3 linked regions of the Homo sapiens genome follow. The protein of the gene in region 2 purifies or fractionates together with the protein of the main gene of each other region. This does not show direct contact. Each region holds a gene or a part of one and is shown on either strand. Other genes may lie near its edges. The genes, in order: SOAT1, SMPD3 and PPP3CA.

Region 1 (3,655 bases), on a different chromosome or scaffold from region 2:
TCCTCCCCTCCCCTCCTCTCCCCCCACCCCATTCCCTTCCCTTCCCTTCCCTTCTTTCCTTCTTTCCTTCCCTCCCTCCCTCTCTCTTTTTCTCTTTCTCTTTCTCTCTCTCTCTCTTTTTCTTTTCTTTTCTTTGTGTAATTTCATTAGTTTAAAGGATTATTGGCTGGATATTTCACCCTTTGTTGTTTTCTGGGATGTCACATTATATAATGTAGAGATTGTGTTTTATTTCAAATATATATTATCCATATTGATTTTGAGGACCACTTCATTGTTTCCTGACTATTCCGGCTTTGCCCTTGAACCTACAATTTTAAAAAATTGATTATCTTTTGCAACTTTGCATTATTTTTATGGAATGTTAATAGCCTCATTACACCTGTGCCTGCCTATTCTTTGCAAATTGTTGCTTCACACTCTAGAAGTTATCTCAGTCACAGGAATAACTTGGTTTAAAGAGATTGGTAATATTCAATTCGTGCAAGAATAAGAAGTCATTCCGGAGATCAGGAAAAAAGAACATGAGCTGATAAGTCATTTTATTCTTCCCTGTTCTGTGCTTCCTTATATTCCCCCCTGTATTTTTGCTGTGAAAAATCAAAGAGCCTTTGCTCTAACTATAGTTTTCCTTTTCTAGGCACTGTTCCAATACCTACAGTCAACCAGTATTTGTACTTCTTATTTGCTCCTACCCTTATCTACCGTGACAGCTATCCCAGGTAATGGTACTGTGAACCAGAAATGTGGTAAACACCAAAAGTGTGGCATGAGTGAGGTGGGATAGGTAAACAGGGGCCAGTTCATGTAGGGACATAGAAAATATAGAATGAGTTTTCATTTTCTGTCTGACCTGAGAAGCCTCAAATGGTGAGTAGGGAAGTCTAATTTGATTATAGTAATTCTTGACAGAATTATAAAGTATTTCATATGGTCATAAATGATGTTCTGAATTAATTAATTTTTATTTATTTTTATTATTTTTAATTTATTTTTTATTAATTAATTAATTTTAGTTTTTTCTGAGATGGGAGTCTTGCTCTGTCACCCAGGAGTGCAGTGGTGCTATGTCGGCTCCCTGCAACCTCTGCCTCCTGGGTTCAAGTGATTCTCCTGCCTCAGCATCCCAAGTAGCTGGCATTACAGGTGTGTGCCACCACGCCCGGTTGGTTTTTTTGTATTTTTATTAGAGACGGGGTTTCACCATATTGGCCAGGCTGGTCTCGAACTCCTGGTCACTGCCTTCCAAAGTGCTTGGATTACAGGTGTGAGCCACCGCGCCTGACCAAAAAACATTAATTGTGAGGGTCTTTATTCAAGTTCAATTACTTTATTTAGAAACCTTATTTTTGTTTCTTTCTTTTTCAGGAATCCCACTGTAAGATGGGGTTATGTCGCTATGAAGTTTGCACAGGTAAGTTTTTGTAACTGCCTAAGGTATGTTGATTAGGGGATGGGGATTCATATTTATGATAATAATATAATCTAGTTAAATCTAATTGGGAGCTAAGAATGCTTTCTGTTGACATTATGCAGTCTTTTAAACTATTTCCAGTACGGTAAATGGTGTTTGTTTTGCCAACATCAAAAGTAATTTTCTTTAATAAAAGAATATATTAGGCTGGGCGCAGTGGCTTGCGCCTGTAATCCCAGCACTTTGGGAGGCCTAGGTGGGCAGATCGCGAGGTCAGGAGTTCAAGACCAGCCTGGCCAACATGGTGAAACCCCATCTCTACTAAAAATACAAAAATTAGCCTGGCGTGGAGGCACGTACCTGTAATCTCAGCTACTCAGGAGGCTGAGGCAGGAGAATTGCTTGAACCTGGGATATGGAGGTTACAGTGAGCTGAGATCACTCCTCTGCACTCCAGCCTGGGCGACAGAGCAAGACTCCATCTAAAAAAAAAAAGAATGTATTATTTATAAAGTAATTCTAATTGGTTATTTCAGTAAGCATTAATTTCCCCCTTCCTTCCTGTTTTTGGGGGAGGTATATATGTATGTGGGTATAGTCTGACTCTTACCCATTCCTCCTCCCACCTCCATCAGAATCATTAATCCTGGAAGATCCCATTTTAAATTAGTGTCTCAATCAAATGCCCATTTATGAAGTAAGTTCTTTCATTAAGGGGTTTTTTTTTTTTTTTTTTTTTTTTTTTTTTTTTTTTTTTGAGAAGGAGTCCTGCTCTGTTACCGATGCTGGAGTGCAGTGATGCAGTCTTGGCTCACTGCAACCTCTACCTCCTGTGTTCAAACGATTCTCCTGCATCAGCCTCCTGAGTAGCTGGGATTACAGGTGCCCACCACTGCGCCTGGCTAATTTTTGTATTTTTAGTACAGATGGGGTTTCACCATGTTGGCCAGGCTGGTCTCGAACTCTGACCTCAAGTCATCCACCCGCCTCAGCCTCCCAAAGTGCTGGGATTACAAGCGTGAGCCACTGTGCCCGGCCATGTTACGGGTTTTAAGCAGCAGGAAAACAGGTTCCAAGAGTAAGCTCTTCTAAAAATATCATTTGGTAAAGGGTTAGGAAAAGTGATGGTAGAAACTAGGCTTGAGTAATCTCCCTGAAGGATTATAGCAGTCTTCTATACTAGTGTTAAATGGAATACATATGCGAACATTACTGTAAGGGTCACATCTGTACTTTCTTTTGGAGAGAAAAAAATCGCCTTCCATCTTATTAAGCCATCGTTATTATAATTCTGTCTCTGTTATGTTCCAGGTCTTTGGTTGCTTTTTCTATGTGTACTACATCTTTGAAAGGCTTTGTGCCCCCTTGTTTCGGAATATCAAACAGGAGCCCTTCAGCGCTCGTGTTCTGGTCCTATGTGTATTTAACTCCATCTTGCCAGGTAACATGGGTACTTGTTAATTTGGTCATGCATAAATTCACGAGGTAAATAGAAAGCTATTGCCTATGAGCACCTTTGCTTTGCCTACTTTTTCATCTAAACTTCTATACATCTATGCCCATCTTGACCTCTTTTGCATCTACTTTATAAATGAAGTATCCTTCATCCAGTCTCAGGTCAGTCTTTCATCTTATGGCTTTCACTCAAGTTGTGCCTTTCTCTGACAGTGGACAGTCCACATTCATGCTGTGTCTTCCTGTTCGCTATTAAGTTCATTGTAATCTTGCTCCTGATTCCACCAAGCCACTTAAATGCCCCTTGTTGAAATTACTAGTAACTTGTAGAAATTACTTGTAGAAATTACTAGTAATCCATATTCTAATCCAGTGGATGGATTAAGATGTACTTTACCCCTTATCCAAGTTGACCTCCATGAAGCATTGGGTGCTGCTGACCACATTTTTAAATCTCTCTTGTCACTGTTTTCTTGCCTTTTTTTTTTTTGAAATCGGGTCTCTCTTTGTCACCCAGTCTGAATGCAGTGGTGTCATCATGGCTTACTAGCCTCGACCTCTGGGGCTCGAGTGATCCTCTCGCCTCAGTAGCTGGGACTACAGGTGCATGCCACCATGCCTGGCTAAGTTTTTATTTTTTGGAGAGACGGGGTCTCCCTATGTTGCCCAGGCCATTCTCAAACTCCTGGGCTCAAGTTATCCTCCTGTCTCAGCCTCTCAAAGTGCTGGGGTTACAGGCTTGAGCCACCATGCTTGGCCTTTTGCCACTATTTCTTATTTTCCTCC
Region 2 (3,655 bases):
CTCAGCCTCCCAAGTAGTTGGGACTACAGGCATTCACCACCATGCCTAGCTAATGTTTTTATTTTTTATAGAGACGGGGTCTCACTATGTTACCCAGGCTAGTCTTGAACTCTTGGCCTCAAGCAAGCCTCCTGCCTCAGCCTCCCAAAGTGTTGGGATTATAGGCATGAGCAACCGTGCCTGGGCTATTTCAACTTAAAATTTGGGTTTTGCATTGGTATTGGATCAAAGAAGCCTATGTTAACGGAAATGTATCCTTTGGGTAATTAAATGAACAGAGCAACAGTTTAGGACAGTGGAAAGAACATGCTTTAGGCATTAAAAAATCTGGGTTCTAAGCCCCATCTTAGAACCACTAACCAGGGCTGTGGCCAGAGCAGCCCTCAACTTCCCTCGCTGTCTTTCCTCATGTTAAAAAGACATGATGGTTTATGATTATTAATATCCTTTCCATTTCTAAAGCTCTTTCTGCTTACAGCACACATTATTTCAGGGTTTCTGTGTCTGTTTCCTTGTTCCGTTCAAGATTTCTATAAGAAAGGACTTATCCCACATTGTGGTTGTGTTCCCCGTGCCCAGCGCTGTGGCTGACACATTTTTGTAGGCACAAGAAATGTCTGTTGAATGAATGGAAATCCAGTCCTCCTTTGAGGGACTCCTGGGCCTCCCAGTTCTTGCCAGAATGATCACAACAGCCTTAGCAATTAATTGCACTTTCTCATATTGGCCTAAAATCTTAACAATCTAAGCTTTCTAAAGGGTTATAGCCAGGATTAGAAACCATTTCCTGATCCTGTGTGCAAAGGAGGTGGTACTCAGCCCTAGGTGTGGCTGCCTAGAGACCCCCACAAATGGCCTCCTTCTTATTACACGCTGTTCTGATGCTGAGGAGAGTTAATTAATGACTCTAAATAAGAAAACAATCAAATCTGTCTGCAGTCATATGAGTCAGAGCAGACCCAGATGGGGTGCCGGGTCCTTGGCTTCCAAGCGCCCTCGGGAAAAGCAGTAGCAGCCTTTGCTCCTTTCATCAGAGCTCTGCGAAGCCCCAGCTTGGAAGGGGAAGGAATCACTCAAAATGGAATGGAGACTCAGCTTGATATGAAGAATTTTTCTTAAAAGTCTAACCCCTTATCTGAGTGTTGTACAGACTGAGGCCCAGGGAGAGGAGAAAAAACATAAGTTCATTCCTTTCTACCCTCTTTAGACATCCAAATCGAATGGGGAGTTCTCAGAAACCGGCCCCTGTGTGTGTTGCAAGATTGGAGCAGTTGGAACTGCCACTTTAGGAGGACAAGACTTGTGGTCTGAAATTCACCAAACCCCAAACCTGCCCACCTTCTGGAGTCTTGCAGCCACATATGGAGGTAGAGCTTTGGTTGGGTGGCATAAGGACAGGAATGTGATGCTTTCCTGAGATTGGCTGAGGCCCACACAGTGAAAATTTTATTTAGGTGTTAGAGGCTTTGCTATGAAAATCTGAGAGTGCAAATAGGTGGAAGGAATCTCTTAACAATATCTGAGTGTCTTCAGCTTTGGAATAGGCTGCTAGGAAATAAAGATAAGCTCTATTTCTTTGGCTGTATGTGTACTCTTTGTCAAATAACAGCTTCCTCATGTTTTTTTTCCTTCCTTTCTTAAAAACGAAAAACAATGACAACACTTTGTTGCCATCTACGCTTGGCTTCCTGTGAAAATTTTCCACAGTGGAAAGAAACCCCTGGGCTACTGGTCATGAAGGTCATTATACTACCCTTTCCCCATTCTTTGGTAACCAAGTTCAGTTAACAAAGCTGGATAAGATATAAAGTAGGTGGCACTATCCTTGCTGAACTTGGAAAGACTGATTTGTGTCTAAATCCTAGTGGGTCCGCAATCCTATTCCTCTGGCATTTGATTATAAACTTACATAGAATAATCCAATAGTTCAGTTTTATTTCTGTAATAGCAATAGGGAAAAAACAGTGGTAAGGAGGAACTTCCAGAGTTTGAGATCCAGGATGGAACCTAAATTCTTCCCCTTCTGTGTAACCTTGGGAAAGCCCTCAAAGCTTGGTTTCCTCACCTTGAAAGTGGGAATTATGCCACCACCTACCTCACAGGACTGTGAGGATTAAATACATTCTTACATGTGAAGAGCCTGAGTCAGAAAATGTTTCCTCTTATTAGCTCATAATTCTTTAAACAGGGATTGCTGATGAGTTTGTTCGAAGTAATGCAGTAATATCCACCACAGCTCTGTTTCCTCCTATTCCATTCTGTAATCAGCTTTGGGGAAATCCTCTTGGAGGCCATGGCCCTCAGCTCTTGCTTCTGGTCCACACCCAGAAGTCCTCCCTTCCCACCAGGTGGGTGAGGCCAGCACTCCAGAACCTTGGACAGCTCTCCTCCACAGTGATCCAGCTGGCTGCCCCAGGGAGCAGGAGGGTCTTGGGAAATTTTCCGAGAAAAGCTGCATTAGTGCAGTGATTTAGGAATACCAGGGCTGCAGTCTCATTTCCAGCATGCATGCTGCCACTTGCATGCGTGTTCAGATTCTTCAACATGACCAGCCCTTCTGGAAATTTCTAAGGAGCCTCTCAGAACTGCTCACAAGATTTACCAAATCTTAGGGCCTTTTCCTTCTTTTCTATGAACTCCAAGAATTTTTTTTGAGCCCAAAAAGAACAGAAACACCACCCACATCTTCCTGAATCTGCTGATATTTAATTTGTTTGGCTTCAGTACAAGGATTAAACATTCTTGATTAACTTCAAGTGAAAGTAATAATGTATGAGCATGAGGAAATGTTTTACAAGACAAAGATACAGGTATAAATTAAAAGAAACATAAAATAACGTTATTGCCTGTAGGTGATGTTAAGCACCATTCTAATCAGGATAAGCAGGTGGTTCAATTTATGAGGCAATTTAGCTTTTCACTCTCCAATGCAGAATACAACACACCATATGCAGTCACCTTCCAAACAGGCAAGGAAGAGATTAAGTCCTATTTTTACTTTATGATACTGAGTCACATAGTTCAATGCAAATCACATGGATGCCAAAGTAAGAACAATACCAGGTATTAAAATACCTTCTTTCCTTTGCAGAGCTGCAGAGCTCTTAGGATTTTGTGACTGCAAGAAATTCCTTCAGAGTAACTCCAGGAGAAGAGACACATGTCACCAGATGGGTATTTAGGACTGAGCATGTCTTATCTCTCTCCCCCACTTCTGTCATTAGGCCTGGAAAGCCGTATTTGCAGCTTTTTGCATTTGGTAATAGCCTCCAGAAGCCTTCATTTTCTGGGCTACATTGTTTTTGAGGAAAAGAGGGCTTGCCTTTGAAAAATGTTATTGACTAATTTAATAATGACAGAAAGAAGAGGATAAATGTGGAACAGGGAAAGAGGAGAAAAGAGTAGTAGAGGTAGAGGTAGAGACAGGAGATGCCTAAATCTCTTTGGCCTTGATAAGTGTTTTCCATGCATTGTCCTTATAAATGGGTTTGATGCCCACCTTCCACTGGTCAGAAACTTGAACAAAGACCTTCAAGCCCTCTTTAAACATTTCCATAGAGGTGAAGACAGCAGCAATTCCATGGCTTGAACTAGCTTGAAAGAACTTCAGACAAGAACATCAACTCAACACTCTGAAGGTAGGAGGGAGCCCCCC
Region 3 (3,655 bases), on a different chromosome or scaffold from region 2:
TAAACCTTGTTTCCTGCTCTGTGTCTTTGTGTCCATTTTTGCAAGACACTATTTCACACTTCTATAGAGCATAGAGCATTGGTCTTTGCTCTATATTTAAAGTACAGTAGAGATGTGATGCTGGTTCAGTATAAAATTGTTTCTTTCTGGGCCAAGCATGGTGCCTCACGCCTGTAATCCCAGCACTTTGGGAGGCCGAGGCAAGTGGATCATGAGGTCAGGAGTTCGAGACCGGCTTGACCAACATGTTGAAACCCCATCTCTACTGAAAATACAAAAATTAGCCAGGCATGGTGGCGCGCGCCTGTAATCCCAGCTACTCAGGAGTCTGAGGCAGGAGAATTTCTTGAACCTGGGAGGTGGAGGTTGCTGTGAGCCGAGATCGTGCCACTGCACTCCAGCCTGAGTGACACAGGGAGACTCCGTCTCAAAAACAGAAATGTTTCTTTCTGCATGAATATAACTAGCTCATTCTGTAATCTGATGGATTTTTTTTAAGTAAATAAACTTCACATCGTAAATTAAGTAGATTTTTTAAAATATCACCTAATATCCCTAGGACTTACTTCCCAGGATATTTTAGATATTATATTCAATTTTCATACATATCATTAAGCTCTGCACATGGCCAGAAAATGATTTTTAAGTTTTTATCTTGCCATATATCAAGTTTTTTTGTATTTGTTTATTTTTACTGTCAATTATATTAACTTTTAGAATGCACTGTATACTTTTTCCAGAATAAATGTTATATTCTGGTAGCTTTGCAGACCTTTAGTTGGGGATTCATATTAATCAGAAACTTTCCCCTCCTCTACTGTCCTACCCTTAATAAGTTATTGTTTTTCAGAAAGAAGTTCTGTATTTTTAGGGACAAGTATTATTTTTCTTGAATGTATTGTTCCAAGAGCATAAATTATTTAAATCTCTTAAACAAGTTTAAGTTTGCAATGAATATTTTGTGGCTAACATAATGGTTGAAATGTAGTCTTGTTTTATTGAAGTTTTTCATTGGGTATTGAAAACATAAAATATTGCCTCATTCTCTATAGATACTAATAAAAAGTAGTGTGCAACAAAACCATTACTTACATCTTGTATGTCCCAGAAAAAAAAAATAGACAATTTGATTAGTTGTAAGCAAAATATGTTCACTTGTCTTCATTGGATTTTTAAAAATATCAATATGAAGAATATCAATTCTTAATAGATTTTCAAAGCTATTGCATGCTTTTATTCAAGAGCCTTTATAATATCTGCTGATTCACCAAAGATCCTTTAATTGCAGTTAAATCAGGATAAACTAAAGTGTTTAAAATTGATCGTGATATGTTATTTCCAGTGATGATATTTCTAATATGCCTTCTAAATGCACCTTTTAAAATTGAAATGTGACTTCACTAAACATTTATAGCTGGAAAATTGATTTCATATGAAGGCTTCAGGTAAAATTATAAAGCTTAGAACTGTGAACTGAAGAATGACCCGCTAAAGTTGAGTTTATTTTACTGCTTATCATTACTCATATTTGTACCCACTAAGATCAACTACAGGAGGCTTGTAGTTTATCATTAGAAACCTAGATAGCCCATAATGAAATAGTATCCAAAATATCATATAGCAAGTGGCTACTTTTAAAGTAAAAGCCATCTTTTCTCAAAATCATGTTCTTAAATATAAAAAAATAACATAAGCATGAAAACTAGGAGTTGTTTTCCATCCAAACTTCTAAATCACAGTTTAATAGAGGCAGTAATAGGAATTTTCCCAAAGAAAGTAATTCTCAATAAATGAAACAGGGGTAGAGTCATAATAACTGGTCATGAAAAAAACATTTGGATAGATAAAGTAAGTAAGGAGAGAAGGATAAAATGTAGAATAGGAGAAATGAGAAACTGCGAAATCTAGAGATAATAGAGGCAAGAGGAAGGTAAAGGGTTAGATGAAGATAGATACTAAATGATCTCATCAGAAGGAAGCTGGAAAGAAAATTGGAGAGAGATGAAGGATAGGAAAACGAGTAGGAAGAAGGACAGGAAGAGAGAGAGAGGTAGAGGACATTTCACCCTGAGCTGTAGCTGGGGAGAAGAGGATGGGTTCTGCACAGTGCTTGTTTCTTGTATTGTCAGAATTCTAAGTTTCCAAAGATTAGTATTTTGCTCTCTGTCTTCTATTTTTCTTAGTTAGACCGATTCAAAGAACCACCTGCATATGGACCTATGTGTGATATCCTGTGGTCAGACCCCCTGGAAGATTTTGGAAATGAGAAGACTCAGGAACATTTCACTCACAACACAGTCAGGGGGTGTTCATACTTCTACAGGTAAGAATAGAGAACTTGCTCTCTGGAACACGTTTGCATCATAATGCTAGGATTTATCAGTCCATGTGTTTGATTTATTTATAATGTTTGTATTACTTCTTTAATATAAATGAAAGGCTCACTAGCATTTATAAAATGAAAATATAAATAAATGAATAAGTGAGTAAATAAATGTGAAATAGATATGTATACATATACAGGTGTACCTTGGGGATGTTAAGGGTTTGATTCTAGACCACCACAATAAAGCAAATATTGCAATAAAGCAAGTCATTATTTTTTTGGTTTCCCAGTGCATATAGAAGTTATGTTTACACTATACTGTAGTCTATTAAGTGTACAATAGCATTGTATCTAAAAAAAAAAAAACAAATGTACATACCTTAATCAGAAAATACTTCATTGCTAAACAATGCTCATGATCATCTGAGCCTTCAGCTAGTCATAATCTTTTTGCTGGTGGAGGATCTTGCCTCGATGTTGATGGTTACTGACTAATCAGGGTGGTAGTTTCTTTCTCAAAAGAAGACATTTATGTGGCCAAAAAACAATGAAAAAATGCTCATCATCACTGGTCATTAGAGAAATGCAAATCAAAACCACAATAAGATACCATCTCATGCCAGTTAGAATGGCGATCATTAAAAAGTCAGGAAATGGATGCTGGAGAGGATGTGGAGAAATAGGAACGCTTTTACGCTGTTGGTGGGAGTGTAAATTAGTTCAACCATTGTGGAAGACAGTGTGGCGATTGCTCAAGGATCTAGAACCAGAAATACCATTTGACCCAGCAATCCCATTACTGGGTATATACCCAAAGGATTATATATCATTCTACTATAAAGACACATGTATATGCATGTTTATTGCAGCACTATTTACAATAGCAAAGACTTGGAACCAACCCAAATGCTCATCAATGATAGACTGGAGAAAGAAAATGTGGTACATATACACCATGGAATACTATGCAGCCATAAAAAAGGATGTGTTCATGTTCTTTGCAGGGACATGGATGAAGCTGGAATCCATAAGAACTATTATTTTTGCCCCAATGCAACAAAGTATCACAAGAACAGAAAACCAAACACCTCATGTTCTCACTCATAAGTGGGAGTTGAACAAAGAGAACATATGGGCACAGGGAAGGGGAACATCACACACCAGGGCCTGTCAGGGGGTGGGGGGCTAGGGGAAGGATATTATTAGTATAAATATCTAATGTAGATGACGGGTTGATGGGTGCAACAAACCGCCAGGGCACATGTATACCTATGTAACAAACCTGCACATTCTGCACATGTACTCCAGAACTTAAAAAAAACTCCAGTA

Evidence for each region.
Region 1: the proteins of SMPD3 (region 2) and SOAT1 purify together in Homo sapiens (affinity purification with mass spectrometry; one large-scale study listed by BioGRID and IntAct). This does not show direct contact.
Region 3: the proteins of SMPD3 (region 2) and PPP3CA purify together in Homo sapiens (affinity purification with mass spectrometry; 2 studies listed by BioGRID and IntAct, with this or other methods). This does not show direct contact.

Annotation. Positions count from the first base shown.
Region 1 is NC_000001.11:179,342,222-179,345,876, forward strand, and holds part of SOAT1 (sterol O-acyltransferase 1), read left to right. Parts: intron 1-640; coding exon 641-722; intron 723-1,368; coding exon 1,369-1,414; intron 1,415-2,725; coding exon 2,726-2,855; intron 2,856-3,655.
Region 2 is NC_000016.10:68,441,880-68,445,534, forward strand, and holds part of SMPD3 (sphingomyelin phosphodiesterase 3), read right to left. Parts: intron 1-3,655. UniProt on the Homo sapiens protein: Catalyzes the hydrolysis of sphingomyelin to form ceramide and phosphocholine. Ceramide mediates numerous cellular functions, such as apoptosis and growth arrest, and is capable of regulating these 2 cellular events independently.
Region 3 is NC_000004.12:101,092,444-101,096,098, reverse strand, and holds part of PPP3CA (protein phosphatase 3 catalytic subunit alpha), read left to right. Parts: intron 1-2,183; coding exon 2,184-2,323; intron 2,324-3,655. UniProt on the Homo sapiens protein: Calcium-dependent, calmodulin-stimulated protein phosphatase which plays an essential role in the transduction of intracellular Ca(2+)-mediated signals. Many of the substrates contain a PxIxIT motif and/or a LxVP motif.